2 linked regions of the Homo sapiens genome follow. The protein of the gene in region 1 interacts with the protein of each later gene in a biochemical or structural test. Each region holds a gene or a part of one and is shown in the gene's direction. Other genes may lie near its edges.

Region 1 (15,930 bases):
GGCTATGAAACTAAGAAACAGCTTATTTAAATAACTACCCCACTTTCTTGATCCCAAGGAAGGCAATCATTTTACATTCAGGGATGAGTCTGCTTTCCTAGATGAGCACATTGAAGAAGAAACCCTGAGTTTCCTGGGGCACGTCTGGACTGAACTGTGAGCTATGGTTGACCTCTAGTTGGCCATGCCATTGAGGAGAATGTGTCCCCTGTACTGTTGGGAGTGGGCTGAGCAGTTCTCTTTCTCTCACAGTGCTCGTTGTAGCGAACATTGCATGTTTAACAAGTGAGTCGAGGCTGCAAGATGCCCTAGTTGATCTGGGATCAGTGAATGTTGTCTAAATGTAAGTGTTAAACCATGATGTTGACCTAATAGCATTCTAGTAAGACAAACGATGCCAGCCATTTCATTCACAGAATGAACTAGGAAGTCCAGAATTTCTAAATGTTGGGGTGGTGTGTGTGTGTGTGTGTGTGTGTGTGTGTGTAAGCAACAAAGAAGAAACAGTAATTAAATTTTTAAAGTCATTTATGCAAATTATTTCACTCTGTTCTCTCAACCCATAAAGCCAGTTCCTTACGAAAGGGTTATTGCTAGATCCCTCCCCTTACTTCAGCTATTTTCACCTAAAATTTCATTATTTTTGAATGATTCATTCACTTATTAAATAAACCTTTGGCAGTCACTTACATACTCTAGGGTTCTGGCTGATTTTTAAATTTTTTAACGTATGACAATCCAGAAATATCTTGCTGAGAAATCAGTTGATGGATAGTTTATTCAAAGGCCATTATCTTATTGTTTCCACAATGGATAATAGACAAACGTATGTTGTTAAAACCATGTGTATTAATTTGCTAGGACTGCCATAATAAAATACCACAGCCTGGGTAGATCAAATAACAGAAATTTGTTTTCTCCCAGCTCTGGAAGCTGGAAGTCCAAGATCAAGATGTGGGCAGGTTTGGTGTGTTCTGAAGCCTCTTTCCTTGGTTTGCCACCTTCTCACTGCGTCTTCACTTGAAGACTTTCCTCTGTGTGAGCACATGCCTGATGTCTCTTCCTCTTTGTATGAGGACACCAGTCAAATTGGATTAAGATCTCACCCAATGGCCTCATTTTAGCTTAATCACCTCTTTAAAGACCCTATCTCCAAATACAGTTGCCTTCTGAGGTCCTGAGGGTCAGGAATTCAGCATATCACTTTTGCAGGGGACATAGTTCAGACCGTAATACTGTATGTGAAAACAAAAGCCTTTTCTGTCCCTTGAGTTTTCTTTGTGTTTGTAGAAGTCAACACACCAAGTAAAGATTTTAGAAAGTCTGGCTTTTCTATCATGAAAGTTACTTAACATTGAAATTATTCTTAAAAAGAAATTAATTCTGAAAAGTGTGACTTCTTAAAAGTTCATTGCTTGGGTTGGGGTGGGGTAGGAGGGCAAGGCCCAGCAAGTGGGTAGGCATGTGATCCGACACTACTGAGAGCCCAACTAGTCTGGGAAGCCGGACACAGGCACAGCAGATTCTGATGCAGGAGATGACTGACCACACTGGGAAACTGCTGCTGAGTCCCTTCCCTTCTTGCGTCTCTCCTGCACCCGAATCAGCTGCCTTTCCTGCCATGCTCCCATCTCCAAGGGAAGAACCAAATGCTGGGAGGCCCAGTCATCAGTCAGCCTCATTCCCACCCAGGCAGATCCACCCACAGCCACTGAGCAAAGCTGTGGCCCCTCAGACTAGCCTCCAGGTCCATCCCTCCTCTGCCAGGCACTCAGCAGCTTGTACCAGCAGGACCCATCCTCACCCTCTGAAGGACAGAGCTAAGCCCTGTCCACTGACAGCTTTGCTCCCCCAGGCCATGCTGAAAGCCTTGCACACACCATTTCATTTAATCTGCTCAGCAACTTCCCATTTAACAGATGGGAAAAACAAATTCCCATCTGAATCTGCCAGGTGGCAGAGCAAGGATTCAGAACCAAATTTGCCTGACCAAGGTCTCATGTTCTCCCTTTTTCATTCTATAAACCCACTGGTAAAGCCCAAAGGACTCCTTTTTTTAAAAAATTTAATTTTAATTTGTTTTTATTTTATTTTATTTTATTTTTAGAGATAAAGGGCTCACTTTGTAGCCCAAGCTAGTCTTAAACTCCTGGGCTCAAGCAGTCCTCCCACCTTGACCACCCAAAGTGTTGGGATTATAGGCATAAGTCACCACTCCCAGTCCCAAAGGGACCCTTTTGTGTCTACGTTTAAATGCATAAAATAAAATACAGAGAATTACAAAGGAAACTAATTTATTAAAATATGTACTTCTTTATTAATGGTTTAAACAACAAGATCTAGCAATGGATCTAAACGTTGCCAGCATGTTGAAAATTGTTGGTGTGTAGTTGTAATATGATGTGAAATATCACGTGAAAACTATGGGTGAAAGAATATCAGATATTATGGTTTGTGGCCTGCATTCATAATCAAAGGAAATGCTACATTTCAGTTAGTGCTTAGTAGAAATAATATGTACTTTTTTTTCATACAAGTTCATGAACCCTTGAATTCTATCCACAGACTCTGGGTGTGAGGATCCAGGCAGGAATGCCTGGTCTGTTAGGATCCGTGCTCTAGGGCCAAGGCCTTCAGTAAGATCTGGCTGTGGCTCTGATGTGGGCTGTCAAGTCCATGAGAGGAGGGAAGCCCTCCTCTCCCAGGGCCTTGGGGCTCTACTTCTCTGGGGAAGTTGGAGGCTGCCAGGAAAGTAAGTTCCAGTCTGCAACACTAGCAAGCCCCTCTGAAATAGGGCTGATTCTTTTGCCCAGATCTCACAGTGCGGTGGGGTGATGCTGGGAGCCCTTCAAGTGGCAAGCACTCGGCTTGTTTGTGTGATACACAGTTCTTTCACTGCATATATATTTAGTAAGAACCCTACTTTGTGCCAGGTATTGGCAAGACCCCATGGAGTCCATAGGCTGGTGGAAAGACAGCCAAGAAGTGGGCCTGGTGTGGCCGGTGGGCCCAGTGTTGGGGCACACGAGCTTGGTCTTTGATCCAGGGGCTGAGTGAGGTGGCAGTATTGGAGTCTGGGGTTTCTCACACACTTCCCTTGAGGCCCCAGCCTGGAGAAGTCCAGACCGTGCCCAGCAGTTGTTCAGCTAGAAGGGAGGAGAGAGGACATGGCAGCCTCCCTCATCTGTGTTACCATTGAGATTGGAAAGGGACAGTTAATCTGGAGGGGAGTGAGAGATGGGGCCAGGGAAAGCAAGCCATGCAAACAAGTTCGCAGAGGAAGAGAGGAAAGAGCACTTAGTTCTGCATCACCCTCTAAAAAGTGAGAGCCCTCACCCGTAGACCCTCTCCCCACTGTCCATCTGAAGTGGCCAGGAAGGAAAGGCAGCACTTCTTTCAATACCTCAGACCCTTTAATAGCATCTTGCTCCCTGAACCTTGTTTTTGCCTGCTAATTTCTGCAATCTGGCCTTGGCTCTGGCCCCAGCCATGACTGTTGCCATTTCTCCCACACTAGCCCTCTGGACCATGAAGTTAACACGCCCTCCCTGGAGCTGTCATCCAGAAGTTAATATACAAGTCAGTTAGTGCACAGACAGTACTAAAACAGCAGCAACAGAGAATTGTAAAATAATTAAGGAGGCCTTTCAGGGTGGCAGCCCCTGAAAGGGTCCCCATTCCACAGTCTGCCCCCTAAGCTGTGCAGGACAGAAGTTCAATTTGATCTCTGTTACGAGAGCCGAACTCATGACAACCATACCCATAAGAGGTTCCTGTTAGTTGACCAGAATATCCACCCTTTCCTAGATATTAGGATCACAGAATGACAGAAAGTTAATCGGTGAACGTGGAGTCAGACAAAATAGTCTTGAGGGATTTTTCATCAACCAAGCACGTGGATGCACTGTTCCCACAGCCCATCTCTTGGGCCCACCGGGCAGACCAGGCTATCCCCCTTCCTTGGTAAGCCTTTCCCAACTCTGATCATACCATTGATTTGGCTCCAGCATCTTTCGCAGTAGTCAGGCCTGAATCAGATCCCTTTCGTTCCTGCTGGTCCTAGGAGACGTCTGACTCCAAGGCCTCTGAATGTGCCGCTGGAGATGCCCCTTGATGGAGGACCCCCTAACACAGGCACCCAGTCCTGCTCACAATGCCCATGTGGCCCTATGGGTGACTAATTGATGTCATGCCAGAAAGAGCAATTTAAGAAACAGACTTTAAAAGAATCCTTGCCTGAGACAGTCTCTTACTGAAAACAGATTCCAGCCTAGTTAACAGGTGAGCTGTGGCACTAATTCGCCTGCCTGAAAGTGTTTATCAGACCATTAAAAGGGCAGTGAGTGAGTGAGGCAGTGTTATCCAGCAGAAGAGCAGGAAGCAAAAGGACATGACTGAATGAATTGCTTCAGGGTGTTTTAGGGAGTGATTTAATTTCTCTGAGTCTATCAAATGAGCACAGCGATGCTGGCTTCCGCTGTCTTAGGAGTCAGAGACCACGCAAGGATAGAGCCCTGGATCCAGCAGATTCTCCATACATGAGAGCTGCTGTTGCTGCTGTGGAATTTAAAATTTTCATTTTCTAGACCGCCCACTTTGAATGGGACTCTTCCGAACTGTCTTAATTCTTGTTTCCCGGCGGCTGTGACAAGTCCAGCAGTGTCTTTTTTAGCTTCTCCAGTCCATTTCTGTTCACAGAAAGCAAGCCATTTAGCATTATCTCAATAGAAAGTATTTGTTTAGGTTTCAGTTTTCCACATTAACTTGTAGTGGTTGAACTAAATGAATATTTTAAATTCTAAGAAATTGTTTTTTGCAATTAAGGGACTATTGGGAGTTTAAAAAGCCTGACACAGTGGCTCACACCTGTAATCCCAGCACTATGGGAGGCTAAGGCAGGAGGATCGCATGAGGCCAGGAGTTCAAAACTAGCCTGGGCAACATAGCAAGACCCATCACAACAAAAATAAAAGATAAAAATAAATTAGCCAGGCGTGGTGGCATATGCCTGCAGTCCTAGCTAAGCTACTCAGGAGTGAGGCAGGAGGATTGCTTAGGCCCAGGAATTTGAGGCAACAGTAAGCTATGATTATGCCACTGCATTCCAGCCTGTGTGACAGAGCAAGACCTCATCTCCAAAAAAAAATTTAAAAAAATTTTTTAAAGAAATATAATTCTGCAGTTTAAAATTTGGGACACATGTCCTGTAGAAATAATGTTATTCAGGTGGCCAGTGACCCAGACTGCCCGCTGGCTTAAGGCTCGATCTCTACATAGGGCTTTAGTGCGTATGAATCACCCAGGGATCTTGTTAAAATGCTGAAACGAATTCAGCTGGGGGCAAAAGGGACTGGGAGTTGACATTTCTAACAGCTTCTGGGTGGTGCCCACGCTGCCTATCCAGGACCACAGTTTGTGTAGCAAGGATGGGGTGGGAGAAGCTGGCATTGCTTAGGGATGAGAACAGTGGGTGAGGCGTTGTCCTAGACAGGGCAGAGGGAGCAGGGGTTCTAGTGAGGCGAAGGAACAGGACTGCAAGGATTAGAGGAAATGGGGAGAGGGCTCCTGGCTGGTGTAACTCACCAGGCACTTCCTGGCCATCGTCTCTCCTGGCCCTGGTGTTTGCCAGGCTGCCCTCTCCGCCCTGCCCCCTCACCCACCTGGGGTCCCTAAACTTTCCTACCCAGCTACGGAATCTGGTCTTCCCTTTGTTTTCAGAGCAAGCACACTCTGCAGAAAGGCTCTTCTTTTTTATTTTATTTATATATAATTTTTTACCCAAACAAAGCTAAGACAGGCTCTTCTAAATGAAATGCATTTCTGGTAAACAGCCTGGGAGTCCTAGGTCTGACTTCTCATGCCCGCTCTGTTTTCGCTTAGATCCTCTGAGGAAATGCTAAGGAGCACAGAGATAGGGATGGCTGGTCTTTGAGTGCTCCAAACATAAGGTTGACCCCCCACACGTCCACCCCGCCTCAGCTGCTGCTCCCTGCTTTCCACCTGACATTCTCCATGCCCTCTCCCTGGAGGACTAGGAACTTTGAGGGCGGGACTAGAAGTAGATTCATTTTCATATTCCTGCAGTGCACACACAGACTTGGCGAATGTCAGGAAGAATGGGAGGAGAAAGCCAGAGGGGGTGGGAGAGCATGAAAGGATTGTCATGGAAATTAGCGAAGAGGAGAAGCCACTTGAAGTGAATTTGTTTTCAGTGAAACTTGGCCAGGATACATCCTAGCAGTTGTGTGAGACCTTCCTGCTTAACTGGGCCCACCTGGGTCGGTCATGGCCTACTGTAGTGGGTGGGGGAATGGAGCCGAGTAAGGCACTGGATGTGGCCTCCATTCTCTCCAAGCACCTCGGGTCAGAAGCCCCTCTGCCGGGATCCTTCCAGAACAGTAATGTTTTAGCAGTGAGGTGTAAAGGTAAGCCCATCTCTTCTAAGAGTTGAGCTAGGTGGAGCTGTCACTTTGGTGGGAAAGTGAAGACAGATTAGGACAGTATTACTAAGATTACATCTAATACATGATCGCATTCTTGTTTTTCCAGATTTATCAGCAAGACTGTTGAACGCATAACTGCCCAAGATGCCTGTCCCTCCCCCTCCAGCACCCCCGCCGCCCCCGACGTTTGCACTGGTGAGTGTCTCCTCCCCAAACACTTTCTATGCATAAAGCAAGCCAAATGAAGCCAAAACCTGGCGTGCATGTGTTTGTATTAAATGTGTTTGCATTCTGGCTCACATGTGATACAACAGGCTTTCCCAGTGCCCAGGGTAAGCCAAATCCTGAAACCCAGCAAATACAAACAACACGAAGGGTTTTGTTTGTTTAAGGTCTCGTGTGATGGATAGTACAAGGGTGGAATGTGGCTGATGAGGTGTTTTCTGCCGCATCTGCGCAGGGACATGTGCTGGCCCAAGATAGGGTTTGCAGGATCAGTTCTGAGACCAGTGTGCACTGTTTTCATTCAGATGAACTCAATGTCTGGCCTTTAACTTCTGGGCTGGACGGTCTAGAAACCCAGGTCTCTGCCTGCAGTGCATTCCATTAAAGTGTCTTCCGGTCTCACTCCTTTCTTTTTTTCTGCCTTTTCCCCTCTTCTTCCCAATCTGTTTTTGACAAATATCTCCCTCCACCACCTCTGCCATACACATTCACATCCTCCTTTAAATCTATACTTGCATTTAGGCATTTAGATGTTTATTTCCTGAAAGAATTTCTTCAGTGGATTCATCCTGGTCTTTTTTTTTTTTTTGAGTCTCGCTCTGTCACCCAGGCTGGAGTGCAATGGCACGATCTCAGCTCACCGCAACTTCCACCTCCCGTTCAAGTGATTCTCCTGCCTCAGCCTCCCAAGTAGCTGGGACTAAAGGCAAGCACCACCATGCCCAGCTAATTTTTGTATTTTTAGTATGGACGGGGTTTCACCATGTTGGCCAGGCTTGTCTTGAACTCCTAACCTCAGTTGATCCACCCACCTCGGCCTCCCAAAGTGCTGGGATTACAGGCGTGAGCCACTGTGCCCGGCTCATCCTGCTCCTTTGATAGACCTCTTTGGGGAAGTTAGTGTGCCCTCTTCAGGAATTTGGCAACTCTCCACTTGGTCATATGGAAAGGCCCCAAGATACGCTCTGTTACAAAGCCCTCTCCAGCTTGTGAAGCCTTCACTGAGGAGGAGCCTCACACTGATGGTTCCTTCATTTTCACCATTTTCACATGGGGAAACTGAGGCTTGGAGAGAAAGTTTCTTGCCCCAGGTTTCCATGAGACACATTTATATAACTCATCTGAGGTTGAAACCTAGTGAGAAGAACTGCCTATTAATTAGCTTATTGTTACTCAGAGTGTGGCCTTCCAACTGCTTTTTAAGAGTCCCCAAAGTGATGAGGACAAAAGTTGAAAGTAAGCATTTAGAAGCATTTCTAGCAATTTGACAGTAGTTTTCTGTTTCTAAGATTGGATGTTGTGTGTCTTTTTTAAAAAACTAATTCATTTTTCTAATAATTCATTGTTATTTTACAAAAGCGTCAGTTCCTGATGAAAATATTTTTCAAAAGACTGGTCCTTGGCCAGGCGTGCACTTTGGAAGGATAACTTGAGCCCAGGAGTTCGAGACCAGCCTGGGCAACATGGCGAGACCCCCATATCTACAAAAAAAATGTTAAAAATTAGCCAGCCAGACATGGCGGTGCGTGCTTATAGTCCCAGCTACTCTGGAGGCAGAGATGGGAGGATTGTTTGAGCCCAGGAGGTCAAGGCTGCAGTGAGCTGTGATTGCACTACTGCACTCCAGCCTGGGTGATAGAGCAAGACTCTGTCGCAAAAAAACAAAAAACAAAAAAAAAGTTGGTCCTTCACATGGGTAAGTTTGAGAACCTCCAATCTGGCTTACATAGCAGGATTCATTTATCCATGTTTCCCCAAAAGTGTGGGCTATAGTGAACTGACTTAATAAAAAATATTAAATAAATAACACAGGTGGTATGAGAAGATGACAAAAATCATGAATCTTATACCAGAATGCTTGAAGTTTGGGAAACCTTGCTTATCTTATCAACTCATTTCTATCCGTTGTTACCTAATTCAAAGCAAGATTTTGGATAAATAGAATATAGAGATGAAGAAAGGGAAAAGGTGGGTTGGTGGCCATCATAGAACACTGCCCTTGTGAAACAACATAATTAAGGGCCCTGAACATGAGAGAAGTTAGCACCCAGGGAGGTCAGCTGTCAAAATAAATTTTGAGGCAGAACAGGAGGCTACTGAAGGTTGCTGACCCAAAACTGTTAAGAGATCCAGTGTGACACATCACTTAACCTCTCTAGGCCTCAGAGTTTTTTCATCCTTAAAATGAAGACAGCAGGTAATGTTAAGAGCTCTTTTCCAGGACATCCAAAGTATGTTAAGTTGAAAACAAACAAGTTGCAGAACAATAGAGGAGAATCCCATTAGCAAAAGCAAACTGTGTATGCAGAGAGCATTTCTGGAAGGACAGCAGAGAAACTTTTAACAAGCATGCTTCAGCGGTGTGTTGGGGCTGGATGGGGAGGGGCATTTTAGAGCCCACATTTATCCTTCTATCAGCTTGTAGGGAAGGCTCTTGACTGCCAGGGTTTGAATCCCAGCTCCTCCTCAACTAACTAGGTGCCTGGGGCAAATGATTTAAACTCCCTATACCTCAGTTTCCTTGTCTGTAAAATGGAAATAATAACTCACAGGGTTGATAAGGGCTAAATGAAGTAATACACATAAGGTGCTGAAAACAGTGCCTGGCACAGAGTATATGTTAACTATTATTATCATAAGCAAGTAATACTTCATCATTTAGTTATTTCAAGATGCTTCCAACTTTACCACTGCAATTCTGGTTAGCCTACTTCAGGGTTTTTCTGAGTTCTTCCTTTGCCTCTAACTCTGCTAATAAAAGGCTGAGTTAGGCCAGGAGCAGTAGCTCGTGCCTGTAATCCCAACTACTCAGGAGGCTGAGGCAGGAGGATCACTTGAGCCCAAGAGTTCGAGGCTGTATTGCATGATGATCACACCTGTGAATAGCCACAGCACTCCAGCCTAGGCAACATAATGAGACTCTGTCTCTAAAAAAAAATTGTTTTTTAAAGGCTGGGTAAGGTATTGAGCCATACATTTCCCCAGCTTTTCCTCCTGTGGCCCTAACTGGCAAATCTGAAATCATATCCCTGTCAGAAGGGCTGGGGCCAGCCTAGAAAGGACCTGTGGGTTTGGGGCAGCCAGACTCTCCCTGAGACAGACAAGACCTAGCCAGTTTCCAAGTGTGATAGACACAGGCACACAGGCAGGTGCCTACATCTAAGTCCATTTGCTGGTCTCTTAGTGTCCCCAACTCCCTGAAGGAACAAGATCCCAATTTCATAGTAGGTAGGGATCTTTCCTAGGAATTCTGGAAATATAAGAAAATAATCAGACATGTTAAAGCAGCATTTTTGTCCATTCCACAATTTCCATGAGCTAAGCTTTCATCAGAATTAAACATCAGAAACACCTCATGCCAACAGGACATGAGGGAACTTTTGAAGTAATGAAAATATTCTATATCTTGATTGTGACGGTGGTTTCACAACTGTATATGTTTGTCAAAACTCATAGAGCTGTAACTAAAAAGGGTGATTTCACTATGTGTAAATTACACCTTAATAAATCTGACTTAAAAAGAGAAAAAAAGCATCTTTGGCAATATACACAGAGGGAATTATTTTCTAGAACTTTAGTGGGTTTAAAAAACATACAGCTGACTCTTTTTGCTAGAGACAGTTTTTCCCTTGCACTGGGGTAGTTCTAAAAGATGGGAAAAGGAAGTTATTCTTCAGGGTACCCTCTAGTGAATGACGTCTGGTAATGTCCTGCAGAATCCTCCCAGACTTAAAATTCTTTTCTCGTGTCTAGTCATCTCACCCTAACCTGGCCCTGTTAGTTTCAGTCAGATTGTGGTCTGAATTTTCAGAGACTTTAATCAAGGACTGACTCTTCCTCCCTTAAAAATGAACATAATTTATTGCTGCATCTGCTTCCAAACGTCTGGATCTTAAAAAGAAAGATATGGGGTCTAAAACTTGTCGAGAATTTACAACCTATCACCAAGAACCTTAACAACAAGCTTCCCGTACCCAACCTTTCCCAGCCGAGTGTTACAATGCATGATTTTAACCCAAGAGATGACTACTTGTTTGTATGGCTCCCTTTCAGGCCAATACAGAGAAGCCTACCTTGAATAAGACAGAGCAGGCTGGGAGAAATGCTCTCCTTTCTGATATCAGCAAAGGGAAGAAACTAAAGAAGACGGTCACCAATGACAGAAGTGCACCAATACTGGACAGTAAGTAAAAAAAGGCTATCTACCATGGAGAGGAACAGTTTATGGCCTAATAATCAACCCTACCCTCACCACTCAATTTTTATTTTATTTTATTTTTTGGTTAACAACAGCTGCAAAGCTAGCAAAATAAGGGACTGTATCACTCCCTGTAGGCCGCAGCTTTGGCTTGGGTTCCCCTCTAATGCTGCAAGAAGCCAGTATAATAATTCTTTGTCCAAGACATACACAGCAGCAATTCTCTGCATTATTCACAACACTTTCTGGAGATTAACCCATTGCTCCTGGCACCACAGATGAGGAGGCAGCATAAAATATGGAAAGAGCCCTAGCCTTGGAATCAAAAGCTGTGGGTTCAAGACCTGGCACATCCATCCTGTACCATCTCCAAGCCTTGTTTTCTTCATTTTAAAATGGAGATGATAATACATGTTCTATTGACCTCACAAGTTTGTCATGAGCTTCAAATGAGATAATGCCTGTAAAATGTTTTGTTGTCTGGAAAGTGTAATTCAAGTGTAAGATACAATTATTAGGAGCTTAGAGAGAAAGAAAATGAGGTCACAACTTCAGTTATCAACCCACCTAAGTCTGAGGTACTTTCTGGAACAAAGCTACTTATTAACATTTACAACAGGACAAAAAATAATCCATGACTAGAATTCTACTGGCAATTAATAAGTAGATCTTAAGCCTGTCTCCTCACATTCCTAGACCCTTCCTTTGCCTGCCAGATGTCCCCAAGATTCATCCTAGACTACAGATCCCATTTGGACGGAACAGGAAATAGACTGACCTTCCAAAATCACCAGATGGATCTTTGTCAACAAGTGAATAATGAGGCAGAATCTTTGCAAAGTAAAGGATTAGAAGTGCTTCAGGGAACTTTCTGGGAGAAATACCTAATGAGTAGAGAAGGAAGAAGAAGGATCAGAGTTAGGTGGACTACTGGTTTGGGAGGAAAAAGGAAAAGTGAAAGACCTAGATAAGGCCTTTGAATGTTGTTCTGTTACCGGGCAAAGTGCTGCGAGTGAGAATGCACTGCTTTCAAAAAGGAACTATGGCCGGGCGCAGTGGCTCGCACCTGTAATTCCAGCACTTTTAGAGGCTGAGGCGGGTGGATCACTTGAGGCCAGGAGTTCAAGACCAGCCTTGACAACATTGTAAAACCCCATCTCTACTAAAAATACAAAAATTAGCCAGGTGTGGTGGCACATGCCTGTAGTCCCAGCTACTCGGGAGGCTGAGGCACAAGAATCACTTGAACCAAGGAGGTGGAAGTTACGGTGAGCTGAGATTGTGCCACTGCACTCCAGCCTGGGCAACAGAGCAAGACTCTGTCTCAAAAAAAAAAAAGGAACTAAGGTATTTAACTCTTGACACAGTCTGACTTGTAAGTCAAAATGCCCACAAAACGAATGTGGTTATAATATATTCCCTCTAATCCCTCAGCCCTCCAAGCCCTCCAATAGCCATCTGAATCATGGTCCCTGGTATGAGGCCAGAGGAGCTGACCTCTAGGACAGAGGCCTGTGGTTCTCCTCACTGCAAGAGGGAGCCTAGGGCTCTGTTGAAGGAGGCTGGACAGTCTAGACCTATTCCTGAATCCACTAGTGGAAACCTTGAAGAATTGTATTCTTCAATGTCCACTTCTCTTATTTAATGGAAATAGTGTTAGTCCTTCTCTCTTCCATGATGTTTAATAATGTGCTTTCCTTGATGGAAGGAAGATACAGTCCAGTGCAGGCCCTTGTCCACACACTCAACTGGACACCTATACTGCTGTCACAAGCTCTTTGCAAGCAGCAGTGTTTATCCACAGTTTTGTATCTGTTTGCATGTGAAACTTCCCTGGGCTGTATGTCAAAATGTTGACCATGGTTATGTGTGATAACTCAGCCCTGTCCTACAGTTTAATTACTGAAAAAATAATCTGAAAGCTTAATCCTCAGCTTTAGCTTCTCTTTCTGAAAGATGGACAGATGTTGCAGGTTAAGAACACTAATGGGCCAGGCACAGTGGCTCACACCTGTAATCCCAGCACTTTGGGAGGCTGAGGCAAGTCGATCACCTGAGGCTGGGATCACCTGAGGCATGGAGAAACCCCATCTCTATTAAAAATACAAAATTAGCCGGGTGTGGTGGCGCATGCCTGTAATCCCAGCTATTTGGAAGGCTGAGGCAGGAGAATCGCTTGAACCCAGGAGGCAGAGGTTGCAGTGAGCCAAGATCGTGCCATTGTACTCCAGCCTGGGCAACAAGCGTGAAACTCCATCTCAAAAAAACAAAAAAAAGAACAGTAATGGGTGATGTCTGATAGTGCAGGAGTCCCTCTAAAGTTTCAGTACCATGTAAACGTGTCCTGTGAAGTGCAGTATTCCAAAATGTGTCATTCATCAATGAATAGTGTTTGAATGACAAGGGCGATGTTAATAGCAAAATTTTTAAATTTTATATGGAAACAATTTTGCATACACTTCTAGAAATTGTTAGTCTTATATGATTTATCCTGTTAGGTGAAGTAATTCTTGTCAGTTATTATCAGATTATTTCTTCCACAGCAGAGCTACCATAAGCATCTCAGAAAGCTCCACATCTAGAAAAGATACAGAACTAACACAAATTTATGATAAACCTAATCCAGAAAATGGAAATAAAAATGAATAAAAGTGGAACTCAGAAAGCAGATAAAATAAGAGATTCAAAGCATATTTTCTAAAATTAAAGTAGTGTAATAAAGTTATCTGCTAAAATGTTTTAAGATATTAAAGAAAGTACTTTTCTAAGAAAAGCATATATTTATTCAGGAAACCTCAATGAGCAAGGGAAAAGATAAAAACTTTATTAAATTACTTTCTCTCCAAAAAGTTTTGGAGCCAGATTATTTTATTAGCAAATTCTTTCAAATTTTAAGAAACAGCTAATTCAAATGCTGTATAAGTCATTCCCCAATATATTAAGAGATGGAAGGCTGTCTAATAATTGTAATGAAATTGGCATGATCCTAATGTCAAAACTTGACAAAGGCAGCACATAAAAAAAGAAAGCTGTACATTAGTGGTTTTCAACTGAGGGTGATTTTTGCATTCCAGGGGATATGTGGCAATGTCTGAAGACATTTTTAGTCACTACTTTGGGGGACAGGGAGGGCTGCTACTGACATCTAGTGGGTAGAGGCCAGGGATGCTGTAAACATTCTGTAAAGAACAGGACAGGACAGCCACCCACAAAAAAGAATTATCTGTCCCAAAATGTTTATAATTAAGAAACCCTATTATGGACCACTTATCATCATAGATAAGAGAACACTAAAATACCAAAAAACAAATCTAAATCAATCAGATGTTACAAGAATAATTCACCAACACCAGGGTTTATCCCCCTTTTTTTTTTTTGGAGACAGGGTCTTGTCTTGTCACCCAGGCTGGAGTAATGGTATGAACACAGCTCACTGCATCCTTGACCTCCCAAGCTCAAGGGATCCTCCCACCTCAGCCTCCCAACTAGCTGGGACTACAGGCATGCACCACCACATTTGGCTCATTTTTTGTAGAGATGGGAATCTCACCATATTGCTCAGACTGGTCCTGAACTCCTGAGCTCAAGCAATCCACCCGCCTTGGCCTCCCAAAGTGTTGGGATTACAGGTGTGAGCCGTTGCACCTGGCCTATCCCATTTTTAATGTTAGAAAGTCTATCCATCATATCAAATAAAAAAGACCATCAAAAAGCCTCAGTAGATCTTGAATAGGCATTTGATAAAATTTCATGCTATAATAAATTCTTGTAAACCTAAAATAGAAGGATCCACAGACTGAATATTTAGAAAGGGAAAAAACCTATTTCAAACCAATAATTCATATTAACTTTGAAATATCAGAGGGATTCTCATTAATATCAGAACATGATTGCCTTTAGAAACGTTAATAATTTACATTGTTATGGAAATTTACCCATCAAAGTAATTACTTATATAAAACAGAAATAAGACATACAACTCTTAGAGAAGAGGAGGCTTTAAACTGTCATTATTTGAAGACCATGTGCATACTAGAAAATGCAAGATAATACATTTTTAGTAAATTTTATTTAGAAAACATAGCAAAGTGGCTTATTAGATATTAAATACAATTTCCTGGTGCCAAAAATAACCAATTACAAAATATAACAGGAAAAACATCCCTTTCACAATTTCAGCAAACAAAAATACATTTGAAGTAACCCTAACAAAAAGCATGTGTAATGTATATCATAAAAACTAAAAAACTTTGCCAAAAAATCCAGAAGACATAAATAAATGGGAAAATATACCACATCTCCAAATGGAAAGTCTAAATATCATAAAAGTATCAGTTCTCCCAGATTAATTTGTAGATTTCATATACTATTTATCAAAAACTCAACATAGTTTTTTGGGAAGAGGACTTTAAATAATGTTTAAGCTCATAAATACAAACATGCATACATACATAAATTAAGAGATAATTTTTTTAAAGAGGGTATAAGCATGGCTTAAACACAACTAATTTGCACTTCTTTGGACAAATACCATTGCATTAGTATCAGTTTTCTATGCCTTTCAGAGTGATAAGATACTGTGGCTCAAAGACAATGGAAAGTAACCCAGAAGACTAGACAGAATACTCAGTAATCTTTTTGTTTGTTTGTTTGTTTGCCTCCCATCAAAATCTTTCACAATTTTTTGCAGATAAATTCAAAATAAAACAAGATCTTTATACCCTCTCAAATTGCAAAGAATGTTTAAATTACTAAAGCCTACTATTGGGCTTCATGATATTAAAAAATTAATAGCAATCTAAAGGGCCATCAAATGAGTAGTTAAATAAATTTTAATGTAATACATTCATGTTCTACAATACAATAGAATCCTTTAAACTCATGTTTTCAAAGAGTATGACACAAGAAGTGCTAACAAAGTGTTAAATGAAAAAAGCAGGCTTAATACTGCTTAGTGAATTTGTTCTTAATTTTAAGAAAAAACACATAAAATGAAAAATACTGATGGGAAAAAGTATAACTCAATTGTGGATATTTGCTTAGTGTTTTTTTTTTTTTTTTTTT
Region 2 (15,930 bases), on another chromosome or scaffold:
TTAGCTGGGTGTAGTGACAGGTGCCTGTAGTCCCAGCTACTCAGGAGGGTGAGGCAGGAGAATCGCTTGAACCCAGGAGGCAGAGGTTGCGGTGAGCTGAGATCACACCATTGCACTCCAGCCTGGGCAACAGAGTGAGACTTCGTCTCAAACAAAAAAAAACAAAAAAAAAAAGAGAGAGAAAAATCAGCTTGGTGTGGTGGTGCATTCCTGTAGTCCTAGCTACTCGGGAGGCTGAGGTGGGAGGATCACCTGAACCTGGGACACAGAGGTTGCAGTGAGCTGAGATTGTGCCTCTGCACTCTAGCCTGGGCCACAGTGCAAGACCCTGTCTCAGAAAAAAAAAAGAAAAAAAAGGCTGGTGGGGGGCTTTTAGGCGCGGTGGTTCGTGCCTGTAATCCCAGCACTTTGAGAGGCTGAGGCTGGCAAATCACTTGAGGCCAGGAGTTGGAGATCAGCCTGGACCAACATAATGAAACCCCATCTCTACTAAAAATACAAAAAATTAGCTGGGTGTGATGGCGCATGCCTGTAATCCCAGCTACTCGGGAAGCTGAGGCAGGAAAATCACTTGAACCTGGGAGACAGAGGTTGCAGTGAGCCGAGATCGCGCTGTTGCACTCCAACCTAGGCAACAGAGCAAGACTGTCTGAAAAAGAAAAAAAAAGTTATTGTGTAGAGGAATTTTTCACTCTGTCTAGACAGCAAGATTACTTCACGTTTGTGCAATCTTGATTTGTACACTGACGTTTGCAAGGAAGGTTTAATGTTGAGGATGGACAGAGTCATTATCTTCTTTTGAACCGTATTGTAACAGCTTTATCGAGATATAATTCACATACCATACAATACGCCTGTGTAGTGTGTACTCTCCACTGGTTTTTAGTATCTTCATGCAGTTGTACAACTGTCACCACAGTCAATTTCAGAATAATTTTATCACCTCAAAAAGAAGCCCTTGTACCTTTTAGCCATGACCTCCCTATCCTCACCACCACCATCCGCCCAGCCCTGGGCAACCAGCAATGTATCTTTTGTCTCTGTAGATTTGTGAACTCCAGACATTTCCTAGAAATTGAATCGTATAATATGTGGTCTTTTGTGCGTGGTTTTCCTTTGCGCAATGGATTTGAGGTCCCTCCACGCTGTAGCAGGTGTCACTGCTGGATCCTCTTTGTGGCAGAATAAAATGCCTTTGTGTTAGGTAGACCACATGTTATGTATCTATCAGTTGATGGACATTTGGAGTGTTTCTGTTTTTTGGCTGCTATGAATAGTGCTGTTCTGAACACTCACGCACAAGTTTTTGTGTGCTTATACTTTATTTCTCTTGGGCATAGACCTAGGAGTGGAGTTGCTGAGTCATACAGTACCTGAGTTTAACCTTCTGAGGAACTGCCAGACCTTTTCCATTTAACATCCCTGTCAGCAGTCTATGAGGCTTCCAGTTTTTCAACACTGTTGCTGAGATTTGTCATTGGCTGTTTTATTTTAGTCATCCTAGTGGGTATGAGGTGGGTTCTCATTGCAGTTTTGATTTGCATTTCCTTGGTGGTTAATGACATTGAACAAACTTTTCCTGAGCTTGTTGGCCATTTGTATATCTCCTCTGAAGAAATGTCTCTTCAGATCCTTCAATCATTTTTAAATGGGGTTATTCGTCCTTTTTATTGAATTATAAGAGTTCCTTTTTTTTTTTTTTTTTTTTTGAGATGGAGTCTCACTCTGTCGCCAGGCTGCAGTATAGTGGCGCAATCTCGGCTCACTACAGCCTCTGTCTCCCGGGTTCAAGCAGTTCTCCTGCTTCAGCCTCCCAAGTAGCTGGGACTACAGGCATGCGTCACCACGCCCTGTTAATTTTTGTATTTTTCGTAGAGACGGGGTTTCACCATGTTGGCCAGGATGGTCTCGATCTCTTGACCTAGTAATCCGCCCGCCTCGGCCTCCGAAAGTGCTGGGATTACAGGCGTGAGCCACCTCACCTGGCCAAGAGTTCTTTATATATTCTGGATCTACAGTTCAAAATACTTTTCTCTCAGGATCGTCTTGTCACCTTCTTGATGAAGCACAAAATTTTTAATTTTGTACAATTTATTTTTTTCCTCTAGTGTTTTGGTGTCATATCTAAGAAACTATTGCCAAATTCAAAGTCACAAAAATTTACACCCTTTTAGGATTTTAGTTCATTTTTGAGTTAATTTTTCTGTATGGTTTTGAGGTAGGGCTCTAGAGGCTTTTTATCTTTGGATCCACAAAACAATCAAACTTATTTCCTATTGGTTATTTTTGTGATTGTTTTTTAAATTTCCAATATTGAGAGTATAAAATTGTGGATCTGAGCCTATCCTTAGCTGCTCATGAGTAGATTTTTATTATTTACTTTATGATTGATTTATGTATGAGACAGGGTCTCTCTCTGTCTCCCAGGCTGGGGTGCAGTGGTGTGATCATGGCTCACTGCAACCTTGAGCTCCTGGGCTCAAGCAGTTCCCCCACCTCAGCCTCCTGAGTAGCTGGGACTACAGGTATACACGACCATGCCTGGCTAAATTTTTAGGCAGAGTTGTATAGATGCTTGCCGATTACACTAATAACTGCAGTAACCAGAATGTAGCAAGCAATCTGTAGAAGTTAGGATTGCCGAAGGGAACTGGGGAGAGAGATGGAGCAAACAGTTGGGTCAGAAACCAGATAGGAAATTAATTAATTACCAGGAGGGCCAGCCAGGCACCATCCCCTAGTTCCTAATGCGTGAGAAACCACTCTGCCTGTGACCGGCTTGTTCCTAGGGACAAGGGGATTTCATTCGTCCATGTGTGTTGTCTAGCAGTATGGTGTCCAGTTGAGGCTGATGTGTGGTCCTAGGGAAGGGGTCGTGTGCTTGGCCACCCTCTGGGGAGCTGGAGTCTTGCTCCCTGCGCGGTAACCGTGTACGTTCATTAGGAATGCAGCCCGCCTCCTCCTCGGCTCTCCAGCTGCCAGTCTCATGTCTTGATAGACAGTCACCATACTGGTTTTTCCTCCCGGCCATATCATGATCCTCTCAAGGAGTGTTTTTCTTATATTATTGTTTTAAAAAGCTCACAGTAACAATTTTATTTTATAATGTCATTAATTAGAATGAATAAAAAGTGAAAATCTCTAAGAATTATGGCAAACAGTAAATGCATACTAGCAATTAAGGCAATAATTTCTGTTTGCATTCATAAGAAACATCATGTAGGCCGGGCGCCATGCCTCACACCTGTAATCCCAGCACTTTGGGAGGCCAAGGCAGGCGGATCACCTGAGGTCGGGAGTTTGAGACCAGCCTGACCAACATGGAGAAAACCCGTCTGTACTAAAAATAGAAAATTAGCTGGGCGTGGTGGCGCCTGCCTGTAATCCCAGCTACTTGGGAGGCTGAGGCAGGAGAATCACTTGAACCCGGGAGGTGGAGTTTGCGGTAAGCCGCGATTGTGCCATTGCACTCCAGCCTGTGCAACAAGAGTGAAACTCCATCTCAAAAAAAACAAAACAAAAAAGACAAAAAGTCATCATGTAGTTAGAAATCTTTTAAAACTTATTTCTTTAGTTTCTCTCTGTTGAACTTTTTTATTAGTAAAATGCAAGTCTTCCCATCCTCCTCTCAGATTTCATTACAAAACCTTGTTACGTTTGGGAAGATTTCTGAAGTTTTCTAAAAAGATCTCCACACAGAAGGGTTTGCCCAGGGAGCTGCTCAACATACATCCTTCTCAGCTTTTTACCCTTAATCTTTTTACAGACGGAATCAGTCCCCAATGCCTGGAAATTCCTCATTGGATTACTGTGTTTTAAACAGAATTTCGTGAACAGCCTTTTATCTCCAAGCGGAAAGAAAGGTACTTGTGCATTGTGAACATCCTAACATTCTTTTCCTGTGGATGGTAAGGGCAAAAATCCCTTTAACAGGAAACGGGGGAGGTTGCTGTTTCTGTGGATTTACTGGGAGAGAGATGATAATATTCTGGAAGGAAATTTCATTGTTTAAAAAATAAAGTCAGGTTTCTGTTGCATATGACTTAGAGGAGACAATTGCAGAAAACTCTGGAATTGAGGAAGAGAACCATTCCTGTCCTCCCTGAGGGGAAATCTGGCCCCTTCCCCACCCCATGAACATGGGTGGGGCCCCCAGGCACAGGATTGTGAAGCTCGCAAGTGCCCACCCCGCTCGCTGGTGAAGCTGTGTCCGGGAAGATGAGCAGAGACTGTGCTCTGCTAATCTCTCCCCGATGAGCCTGAAAAAGTACCAGGCAAAGACACCTGCCGCCTTTCTCCTTTGCCTTGGGGGTGAAGGTGGCCTCGCCAGCCCTGCAGGGACTCCCATCCTTTCTTGCAGCCACCTTCTCAGTGGTGGGAACCATGGGCAGCTGAAGTCCTGCAGGCGGGCAGCCCCCTCGCCAGGGCAGCATGGTGCCATGGGGCGGCCGGAGACCAAGCATCCCGTTTCTCTTTCCTGCAGCCGTTGCTTCATTTATAAATGGGCGCGTTGGGACAAGATGGACTGGTTGTGCCTTTCCGTTCTGAGATTCTAGTTCATCTGTTTTCTAAAATCCTGGCAAAAGCAGATCACTCTGGAAATTCTTGCCATGCTTTGGGCATTGACAGAAGGTTCCAGGGGCACTGTTAGTCCTGCTACACCCCTTGGCAGACGGTTCTTCCCCAAGAGACAAAGTCGCACCTAGAAATTTGAGAGCACGCTGCCCTGATTGGTCCCTCACTGTCACATTGGATTTGGACTTGAGACCCAGCCAGGCTGGAGGGAGAGGAGCCAGATGGGACATTCTCAAGCTGCGAAGGGGTTTTGTCCAGTCCTGATTCAGGGCGCTAGAGTCCCAACATGGCACCTGAGAAAAAGTGAATTGGGTGTCCTCAGTTCAGACCCCTGGGCACAGCTTATGGTTGTTTGATTTAAAATAATCTCTCAGTTGCTCTGTGGCCTATGTGTAATTGTATTACTATTTCTGTGGAAAAGGAATCACTTCTTTTTATACATAGTTTGAAAAAAAAAAAAAAACCTTAAAATTTTATATTTTACCACTGCAGTTACAAGAATTGTCTTGTTAGGGTTTACAGATGTGCCATTGTTCTGTATAACAGAGAAAACCTTCCAGTCTTCAAGGGCTGAGGGAGAAGGTGGCTGCCCACTTGCAGAGCTGCCTGATAGAGGAAAAGGTGGCATTTTATATTCCTGTTTTCTTCCAAGTAGAGAGTAAAGCAATTCTCCAATAAACTACTTGAAACATTTATTAAATTGTAAGTCTGAATTAGGAAAATTATTGTTATGGTTTCAGTAAGCACTTGAAATCAAAATGGGTGCACTTTTTAAAAATGTGTGATAAAATACACATACCATGAGATTTACCATTAGTAACATTTAGTATATTTATAATACATAATCCAAAATGGTGCTTTTATTTTTGGTTGGAAACTATCATCATATGATTGAACAGAACAGGAATATGTTCTTAATGAATAAATAAGTGCACACACGACTTTTTTATTTTCCAGAAAATTTTCTCACTCAAGGTGAAGCCAAATAGTATTTCCAGTATATTTCTGACGTCAGGTGACGGCAGTGTTAGAACCCCGAGGTGAAATTTCTTTTACTCCTGTGGTTGTCAGTCAGGCTTATGGATCATGAAGGATTGGCTGGTCCTGCAGCCTCGTCCTCCTGGGTTGCCTAGAATCTCGGTAGTTTTGGCCAAAGGGCTCATCTGCTGGCCTCTGTGGATGGCGCCCTGAGGCCTCCGTAACCCTCCCCGGCTGCTCTTTCAGATGTGGAAAGCTTCAGCAGGCCACGCTGTGTCCATCGCCCAGGATGACGCGGGGGCCGATGACTGGGAGACCGACCCTGATTTTGTGGTAGGAGCCGCCAGCCTTTGCTTTCCTCTTTCATGAAGTGGAAGTGGCTCTCCTGGGTTTTTCTTTGATGGGGTGGTGGTTTGTCTGTGTCACAATCCAGGCTGTGAGATTTACTGGTCGCTTTTCTTTTCAGAATGATGTGAGTGAGAAGGAGCAAAGATGGGGTGCCAAGACGGTGCAGGGCTCCGGGCACCAGGAGCATATCAAGTAAGAGGCGTCGCCACCACCCTCCCGAGGGCCCCTCTGCGGATGGAGCCCCAGGTGCAACAGGGCCCATGGTCATCTGTGGAGGGACAGCCCGTGTGGAAACTGCATTTATCTTCTTGACCTGATACCCATGCAGTAAATGAATATAAGACACACACATATATGTGTATTTGTGTAATGTGTGTGTTTATATGTGTATATTTAGATACTTCTGTGCTCAGTAATTTTTAAATTCCCATTGCAAACAATTTCCGTATTTATAATTTTAGAGTGTCCGCTTCTCAGTATTGTGGCTTTTATCAGGGAACATTTGTCCCTAAGCTCTACCTTACAAGCGAGAGGTTTCTAAAGTATGAGATGTCTGAATAACTGAGACCTTAAATGCCCTGTCCCTTTTTTTATTATCTGGAAATGATTATGTGTTAATAGTGAGGTACTGTGAGCTTTGTGTTCTTATCGAAAGCCCAGAGTTGGGCACTGAGTGAACCCTGTCATTGTTTCTCACTTGGCACTATCTAAAATGCCAGCTCTTGGGGCAGTTTTTTTTTTCGTCAGAAAGTGTAGATAAAAGGAACTTTTAAAATATGCTCAGACTTTTATTTTAGGCCACGCTGGGTTCAGAGTGGATCCTCCTTTCCCTGGCTGTGAAGGCAGCACCACTGACCCGGTGACCGCCTCAGTATCCCGGGAAGACTGTCCCGCTTGACCACGGTCCCTTCAGCTGAGAAAGATTTAGTCCTTCCTCCAGAAAAGAAGGCACAGCCTGCACAATGGCTTTTTATTTTGTTGTTAAAGATTTATTTATTTATTTATTTATTTATTTTGAGACAGGGTCTCACTCTGTCACCCAGGCTGGAGTGCAGTGGTGCAATCATAGCTCACTGCAGCTTTGACTTCCTGGGTTCAAGCGATCCTCTCACCTCAGCTTCCTGAGTAGCTGGAACCATGGGCGCACACCACAATGGCTAGCTAAGTGCTTTTATTTCTTGTAAAGATGAGGTCTTGCTTTTGTTGCTCAGGCTGGTCTTGAACTCCTGGGCTCAGGTGATTCTCCTGCCTCAGCCTCCCAAAGTGCTGGGATCACAGGTGTGTGCCGCCGCACCTGGCCCCCAGTGGCTTTTTATACACAAGTTTTAGTCCCTCTCTGGCTTGCTCAGCACACTCCCTTCCACAGAAGCAGCTTCGGAACTCCGGTGGCCGTGCGGCTGCCCAGGACAAGAGACTGGAATGGGGCTGACTTGGGAGTCCACTGTAGCCTTGGGTATTTGCTATGGCGTTAAGCAGACTCCTGAATTCGTTGAGTCATCATACCTCTTCTCATCTCTTCTGTTCCCTGTGGCTTCAAAACATGTCTCGGAGGGTGGCTTGGAGAAAAAACAACTCTCCAGTACAAAACCCTTGGGCTGGTTAGGATTCAGAGAGGAACACATGGGGAATAAGCCCATTCTTCATGCTCTGGGGCCTTCCCAGGTTTTAGGAGTGGTGTCTTTCTTTCTCCTGCTCATAAGGGTATTGGGCGGTTTCCAAGCCTGGTTTGTATTTCATCTTCAATTCTAGGATTGTCGTCCAGATGTCAAAGGTGGCGTCCTGGTGTCTCCTGGGCAGAAAGTCCGAATGCCAAAGTGGCCTTCTTATCACTCTGGGGTCTCTCAATGACAGCTGTGTCTGGCCTACCAGATTTGAGCAAACCTTGTCATCTGTTTCATTATCTGCTGTATTAAAATTTTTTAATGGCATTTAGATGTTAAATTCTGAAACGCTTTCCTCTCATCTTTGAATGTATAAAAAAGCTGGAGTACTTCAAGTACAGACGAATCATCTGAATGTTCAGCACCACTGGACTTCTGCCAGTGGCCGAGGAAGGGACCATAGCCTCGTGTTTCCCCCTCTACCTCTGGATGATTACAGACTAGCTTTCCTATTTTCTGCGTGTGAAATAAAGGTCAGGCTTCAGTAGAGCCATCTTTAGCGGGGATTTGGGATGATCCCAGTGTCTGCCTTCAGATTCGTGTTCTGTCTCCCACAGAGCATGCGTCTGATACTGCAGACTGCCGAAGTGGGTGTACCAGCCGGCAGAATAGTCAGGAAGGCACAGTGCAGGGAGAGAATCGGTGAACATCAGATAAGCAGATTTACAAATTTACAAAGATAATGTCACCTGTTCTTATTTATCATACCAGGAGGCAAAGCTGCACGTCTGTTTTATTGATCTGTTCCTATTTTCATCTCTTCCATCAAGCATACACAAGCTGAGGGAGAATGTCTTTCAAGAGCATCAGACCCTTAAGGAGAAGGAACTTGAAACAGGACCAAAAGCTTCCCATGGCTATGGAGGGAAATTTGGTGTGGAACAAGACCGAATGGATAAGGTAAGTGGCCCGCGGCTGCCTATGCCAGGCTCCTGGTGTGCTTGGACCACTAGACTGGGTGGCAGAGTCGTCCCTCAGTCTTTCCTTAGATCAGCAGTTTTGAGTCCATCTGCTGAGGTTGCGATTTGCCCGGAGTAGACCCCTGTTGATTGGACTTACTCATGAAGTACTCTAGCTTTCTTCAAAGCTCTTTAGGAATCCTCAGAGGTGCTGGAGCACGGGTGTTAGTGGGGAGGCCCAGAGAGGGAGATTGGCCCTCAGAGGCAGCCTTGTGATAGGACAGAAGTCCAGAAGCATCCTGGCTCTAGGTGTCATCACTGTCAATGCCTGTGGTTCCAGTCTGTAGCCTAAGTCATGCCAGTCCGAAGACCAAAGTCAAATCTGTAGGTCCCCATGGTTCACAGCACACACGGAATCCAGCCAAAGGCCTGGCTAACATCCTTCATGCGTTCAGTGACCATCAGAGCAGTCTCCCTCGTGTAAATTCGGCGCGTACCAGGCTGGGGACAGTGCTCACTCTATTCGAGAGGTCTGGGCAAGCCTCCCAGCAGCTGTCATTGATGGGATGCAGACTGCCACGCAGACGTTGATTGAGGACGTTGGCCAAATGCATCCGGCTGCACCCGTGCTTTAGGTCCTCTCTACCTTAAGAAAGGGAGCCACGTTAGCTCAGGAGGGCTACCTTTTCCTTCCTGGAGAGAAGATGGAAGAGATCGCAGTGTGTTTGCATGTTTCTTCAGTAAAACAGACATCCTGGAGGTGAACTTTTGAGTCTGAGCAACATAAGCTTGTTCTGACCTGACAGATGCTTGCCTTTACTCTGTGGAAAGAAGTGTGTTAGCCAGTGTCGGATTCCAGCCGGTAATTCCATACCCCTCTCCCACCTCATGCACCAGCCAGATGAACATTTGAGCTGGGCACGGGATGATGTTGCCGTGTCACAGTGAGCTGCACCTTGCTCTGTCCCCCGCAGAGTAGATGATGTGGTGGGCCGGCAGGGCACCCCAAACCACGACCATAAATAGCCTGGGGGAGGAGTGGGGTGAGGGACCTTCTGCAGGAAAGAGACATGGATGTTGCTGCGTCACTACCACAGAGATGCCCTGACACCGAGAAGAGCAATGTGTGCAGAATCATCATCTTTGGAGTCTAAAAAAAGTCTGGTAGCTTTTAGGAGTGTAAACAGGCAGACGGACCCCTGAGTTCAGTGCAGCGAGCGAAGCAAGTGCACACGGACAGACGGAATCCATGTGTTCAGTGCAGCGAGCGAAGCGTGTGCACACGGACAGACGGAATCCATGTGTTCAGTGCAGCGAGCGAAGCGTGTGCACACGGACAGACGGAATCCATGTGTTCAGTGCAGCGAGCGAAGCGTGTGCACACGGACAGACGGAATCCATGTGTTCAGTGCAGCGAGCGAAGCGTGTGCACACGGACAGACGGAATCCGTGTTCAGTGCAGCGAGCGAAGCGTGTGCACACGGACAGACGGAATCCATGTGTTCAGTGCAGTGAACGAAGCAAGTAGATAGGAGCCTTTCCCACTGCAGACTGAGGCGAGCCCTGTGCTTAGGGGGCTTGTGGGGAGTTAGCGCAGAGAGACATTTATTCTAAAAATGGGGCTCCCTGCTGTGGGTTGGGAAAATTACATATTGGGGAAAAGAAAGGCAACGTGTCAGGAGAGCCTGGTAGGGAAGCTGCTGTGGCTTCTCTGCTGCTGCTCGGCCTGCACCTTTTTTCAGCGCGAATCTCGCTCACCCTAGAACCTGCAGCTCAGGCCTTCCCGAGTGCCAGGAGCTCCCTGGAAGAGCCCTCACTTCCCTCTCTCCTGTGCGGTCTCCACAGCAGCCTCTGCTTCCCTCATGAGCTGTCCTTGCCTCATCCTGCTGTCCTTCCCAGGGAGACTCCCCTCCGGGCTGGGCTTTTCAAGGGTCGGGACTTGTCATCCTCACCTTGTGCCTGGCTCAGTGCCACGTGCCCCCCCCTTAGGCCAGTGCTCTCATGGAACCAAGGAGGCTTATGGAGCCTTGCTCTCACCTCTCAGCCGGCAAGTTGGAGAGCTGTCCTAGCAGGGCGAGTCCAGCAAGGGATGCTGCTGCTGCTCAGTCCCAGCTGGCATCGGGGCCAGGTTAGCGCTCAGCTCAGGTCAGCACCATGGGACAGATACGTTGTCAAAAATAACTCAGGGCCAGGTACGGGACTGGCACCTGTAATCCCAGCATTTTGGAAGGCCGAGGCAGGATGATCTTATCAGCCCAGGAGTTTGAGACCAGCCTGGGCAACATAGCAAGACCCTATCTCTACAAAAACATAATTAACTGGGCATGGTGGTGCACACCTGTAGTCCCAGCTGCTTGGGAGGCTAAGCTGGGAGGATCACCTGAACCTGGGAGGTGGAGACTGCAGTGTCCTGTGATCGCACCATTACAGTCCAGCCTGGGCGACAGAGAGAGACGCTGTCTCAGGAAATAAATAGATTAAACTCAGATTCCAAACCGAAGGGGAAACGGCTTAAGTTATTTGTAACTTGCCCACTCCAGAAACTAAAAAAAAAATAAAAAATTGAAATCTCTGCGTTAAGACTTGAGGAATATGTGCTAGAGACTTCCAGAACAAAAGAAGACATTGAGGACAAGCACACGCGAGAGGAGCCTGGACGGGCTGTCAGGATTCTGTTTATGCTGGGGCCTGAGCACACTGCACCTTTCCCTTGCGGCCAGCGGTGGCTGCATCCATCACGCGGGGCAGGCTTCCTTCTTGATCCCTTGTCTCCTTGCATCCCGTAGCCCTGAGTCTACATATTCAGGCTTCAAGATACAATCTCCCCAGCGTGATTGTTTAATAACAGATTTTGTCAATGTGAAATCGAAGGCAATTTTGGAGATGAATCCCTTTCAATCAAAAAGCTGGAAACTTTGCCTAGTTGTCATTCTGGGCATGTCTTTAGATCAGTTTTCCTGTAACTTCCTTCTGATGAAAACTCATGCTGGGGAATCCCTTTGGCACGTCTGCCTCTGCCACTCCTTCATCTCTGTTTTCTGGGTGAGACCCCGGAGGACACGGATGGGCAGTCTCTGCCACAGAGGGTTTGGAGGTGATGGCTCATGTGGAAAGAGAGTCAGCTGCCAACCTCAAAACAAACGTGGGAAGAAGAGGGCGCAGCACAGGCCCAAGGCTTAGGGCAAGACCTGCTTTTTCAATAGGGGAAATAGTGGACACTCTCTGAGTTGCCTGCTGCGTCAGCACCGGTGTGGGATGCTGCTTGGGTTAGCAGGTTAGCATGAGTGGCTCCACATGCTAGAGGGAGTGAGAAGAGGGGTCCCGATGTGCCGTGGACTTTCTCCACGCCCTCTGCTGGGCCATGTGCCCGCACTGTCTGTGAAGGAGTCCTTGACCCGGCTCTGCTGTGAGGAGGGAGCCTCAGAACCCTGGGGCCTCGGTGTCAGGACTGGAGCAGGGCCAGTGCTTTGAGGTAGGAGATCTTTTCCACTTTGTGGACCAGAGGGTCTCTCAATAGAACTGCCGAACGGAGTTGCTGAATCACACAAGCAGCTGTGGACAGCACACCTGTGAATGGCTGTGGCTGTGTCCCAGAGGCGTTATTTACAGAAGAGCTGGGTGCCGGGTCTGGAAAGCCCAGGGGAACCTTGGGCTTTACCTGCTGGCTTTGGCGAACAGAAGGTCCCCAAACCTGTGTGCGCTGATGGGGGCTGACGACATTAATGATGCTGAAATGAGCTGGCATGGGAGCCGGCAGCTGGCTCCTGCCTGAACAGGGTGCTGCTCAGCGGAAATCCAGTGTGAGCCTGTGTCTTGCAGACTATTTTTGTTTATAGTCTATTAGAACAAAATAGTTTGCTGGCAGACTATTTTTTGTGCCGATTCTTTGGTCATGTGATTCACAGAGGTCCCACTTCAGTAGATGCCAGCAGTCTCCACACCAGCGGGTCTCACGGATCCTGCCACAGGCTGCCAGCTCTGTGTACCTTCTTCATGCCCGGTCGTGTCAGAAATCCCCACTGGTGGCCCCGACCTGTGTCCAGGGTTCGTGTGCAGCTTCCAGGAGCCCAAGGGCTGGGGTGGGCCGTGAAAGCCTGCACCAAGGGCTGGGCGCGGTGTCTCACGCCTGTAATCCCAGCACTTTGGGAGGCCGAGGCGGGTGGATCACAAGGTCAGGAGATGGAGACCATCCTGGCTAACACGGTGAAACCCCGTCTCTACTAAAAATACAAAAAATTAGCCAGGCATGGTGGCGGGTGCCTATAGTCCCAGCTACTCGGGAGGCTGAGGCAGGAGAATGGCGTGAACCTGGGAGGCGGAGCTTGCAGTGAGCCGAGACCCCGCCACTGCACTCCAGCCTGGGCAACAGAGCAAGACTCTGTCTCAAAAAAAAAAAAGCCTGCACCAAGGACCCGGGCCTCCCAGGAGTCGTGTCGCCTTCCTTGGCTCCCCAGATGGGTGTGTTAATGTAAGGTTTCCCTGCACTGACCAGGATGTGGCCTCCCCCAGCCCTGCTCTGGGAGGAAGTGAAGCGCCGCAGTGTTGTTGGTGTCTAATGCTTTGTGTTTGAACCCTGTTCCAGTCAGCTGTCGGCCACGAATATCAGTCGAAACTTTCCAAGCACTGCTCGCAGGTGGACTCGGTCCGTGGCTTCGGAGGCAAGTTTGGTGTCCAGATGGACAGAGTTGATCAGGTGAGTGATGTGGCACTGGGACTGGGGCAGGTTGGGGCAAGGGGGGCGTTCCCCGTAGATCTGAGCCCTGTTGGGCCACTTGTAGTAGCAGGCAGGTGCCCTCCAGCTCTGGGGGACTGCAGAGAGGGGCATCTGCCTCCCAGGATGCTCTGAGAGCCTGGGCTCTCAGAGAGAGGAAGCAGGATGCGGCGGGCTTGCTGTAGCAGTCCCTGCGGTCGCTCTTCACTACGTGCCTCAGTACTGGATGGCCCTGTGTCTGTCCCAATGTGCCAGCAGGGACCGTTTCCACCCGTGTTTCTCACATGTGTGTTACTGTGACAGAGTGACATCAGAGCCTATACCGGGGGGGCAGGATGCGCTCGTGTCCAGGACCCAGGCTTTGCGTCCAGGTGTTGTTGCAGTCATCCTAGGCCCGAGCCTCTTTGATTCTCTTCGGCTCGGGTCTGTTGGCTCTTTTGTTTAATAGAGGAGCGATCAGGAGCCTGGAGGGAGCAGGGAGCTGATGCTGGTCGCAGATTGTGGCTTTGTGACATATTAGCCACGGTTCTGAATTTATGTGTCTGTGAAAGGAGGATGATCATACCTATCTCACGGGTGTTTGCTCAGATGCCCATCGCAGTGCCTGGCTGGTGGGAGTGCACCCCTGGTGGCCACTGCTATTCTCATTACTAATACTAATGTTCTCAGCATGACTTATTTGAGAAGCGAGTTTTTGTGAAGCCCGTGGAATGAATCAGCTGAGCATTCCCTGCTGCCGCATGCTGGGGAGGGCAGGTCACCAGGGATATGGCTTGGCCTGCGCCGCCCACTGGGCCTTGCAGTGGGCCTGTCCGTTTAGGATGCCAGAGCTCTTGCGTCACTGCCACCTGCACCTGGCTTAGGAACCCAGAGGTCACAGCATCATGTGTTTCATATTTTTTTAAATGTCATGTCATGAATTCAGAGAGATTGTTTCAGGGACATTGGAAAGTATTTCTCCCCACTTTTTCATGTGTTTTTGGTCGTCACAGTCTGCTGTAGGCTTTGAATACCAGGGGAAGACTGAGAAGCATGCCTCCCAGAAAGGTAAGACGCGAAAGGTGCAGAAAGAGCCCGCTCCGGGGGCCCCGATGGGGAGAGTCACAGCCACCTGAAGCCGTTTCCCCGCGCTCCGGGGGCCCTGATGGGGAGAGTCACAGCCACCTGAAGCCGTTTCCTGAGCGGTGGCTGTTGCCACAAGGAGGACTCTGCCCTCCTCTTCATGTTTCTGGATCATCTGGATACCACATGATGGATGTATTCCCCGTTACACATCCCCCTCGGAGCCCTGGCATCTGCTGTCATTGTGGGGCTTCTCCCCCTTGTAGCGGAAGCCGCCTTCCCTTCATCTGGGCAGCGCTCCTCCTGGAAAAGAGAGCTCACAGATTGATCGGCAGAAAGCTAACTTCCCCCCAAGGCTAGAAACCAGAGTTGTTAAATTCTTGTTTTCCTTATACACATACGGTCTTAACTGCTGGTGATTAATCTTGATTACATCATGCAGTCTCTTTTTTGAAAGACCAAAGCATATCGCCACCTTAAAGTTCTCAGTTTATTTTTTGCAAGCTTATTTAGTTCTTCCTCCTTTGTGTCATTGCATCATCCGCGGAACAAGCTCTCAGTCCTTACGCAGTCTCGGTGCAGTCTAGGTGGAGGTAGCTGTGGTGTGGGCAGGCGGAGGATCAGGGTCTTGTCTCCCATGTTCAGCTGCATGGCTTTCTTCATATGAGGCTTTCTCTTTCCATTTTTTTCATTTTGTTTTGTTTGTTTGTTTGTTTTGAGACAGAGTCTCGCTCTGTTGCCCAGGCTGGAGTGCAGTGGCACGATCTCGGCTCACTGCAACCTGCGCCTCCTGGGTTCAAACGATTCTCCTGCCTCAGCCTCCCAAGTAGCTGGGATTACAGGTGTGTGCCACTACCCCTGGCTAGTTTTTCTATTTTTTAGTAAAGATGGGGTTTTGCCACGTTGGCCAGGCTGGTCTCAAACTCCTGGCCTCAAGTGATCCGCCCACCTCAGCCTCCAAAGTGCTGGTTCTTTGTATGAAGCTTTCCAGCTTTTACCTGAGCAGTTGATTTTCAAAGTGGGCATGCAGCGTCATTTCTGACTACACAAAGGAACTGCCCTGTAACAGCTGACAGGGCCCAGAACCCCCCCATGCACCTGTTGTGAAACAGGGTCCAGCGTCACCTGTATGGAGCAGTGGGTGGCTTGTTGTACATTTTAAAATGTGCGCTTGATGTGTTTGTGAGTTGTAACCCCTACACACTTTTGCTTAGTTTAACAAAAGGAACAGTGTAGTTCGTCCTCAGGCCCCCGTGCTAATTGCTGCCCTGTCTCTCCAGACTACTCCAGTGGTTTTGGCGGCAAGTATGGCGTGCAGGCCGACCGAGTAGACAAGAGCGCGGTGGGCTTCGACTACCAGGGCAAGACGGAGAAGCACGAGTCACAGAGAGGTGGGGCGGACCCCACGGTCTGTAATCACGCGTTTGCTCCAGAAACACCCACGAGGGCATTTTCTCTCTGCACACGTGATTGTTGTAGATTTTTTAACTGAAAATGTTTGGTGTTCTTTTCGTACCAGTGTATGTGGGCTTTTCCTAATTCGAATGGCTGCACAGTTCCCCATCGTATGAGGATTCCATAGTCCATGTAACCATTCCTTTTTTGAATGTGGAATTTAGGTTATTTATTTATTTATTTATTTATTTTTGGTAGAGATGAGGTCTTGCCGTGTTGCCCGGACTGGTCTTGATCTCCG

What was found.
Region 2: the proteins of WIPF1 (region 1) and CTTN form a complex in vitro, tested with the Homo sapiens proteins (one study listed by BioGRID).

The regions. Positions count from the first base shown.
Region 1 is NC_000002.12:174,576,231-174,592,160, reverse strand, and holds part of WIPF1 (WAS/WASL-interacting protein family member 1), read left to right. Parts: intron 1-4,434; exon of another isoform or gene 4,435-4,688; intron 4,689-6,549; 5' UTR 6,550-6,587; coding exon 6,588-6,638; intron 6,639-10,721; coding exon 10,722-10,851; intron 10,852-15,930. UniProt on the Homo sapiens protein: Plays a role in the reorganization of the actin cytoskeleton. Contributes with NCK1 and GRB2 in the recruitment and activation of WASL.
Region 2 is NC_000011.10:70,401,499-70,417,428, forward strand, and holds part of CTTN (src substrate cortactin), read left to right. Parts: intron 1-3,766; 5' UTR 3,767-3,863; intron 3,864-5,799; coding exon 5,800-5,886; intron 5,887-6,019; coding exon 6,020-6,093; intron 6,094-8,332; coding exon 8,333-8,462; intron 8,463-13,043; coding exon 13,044-13,154; intron 13,155-14,164; coding exon 14,165-14,219; intron 14,220-15,514; coding exon 15,515-15,625; intron 15,626-15,930.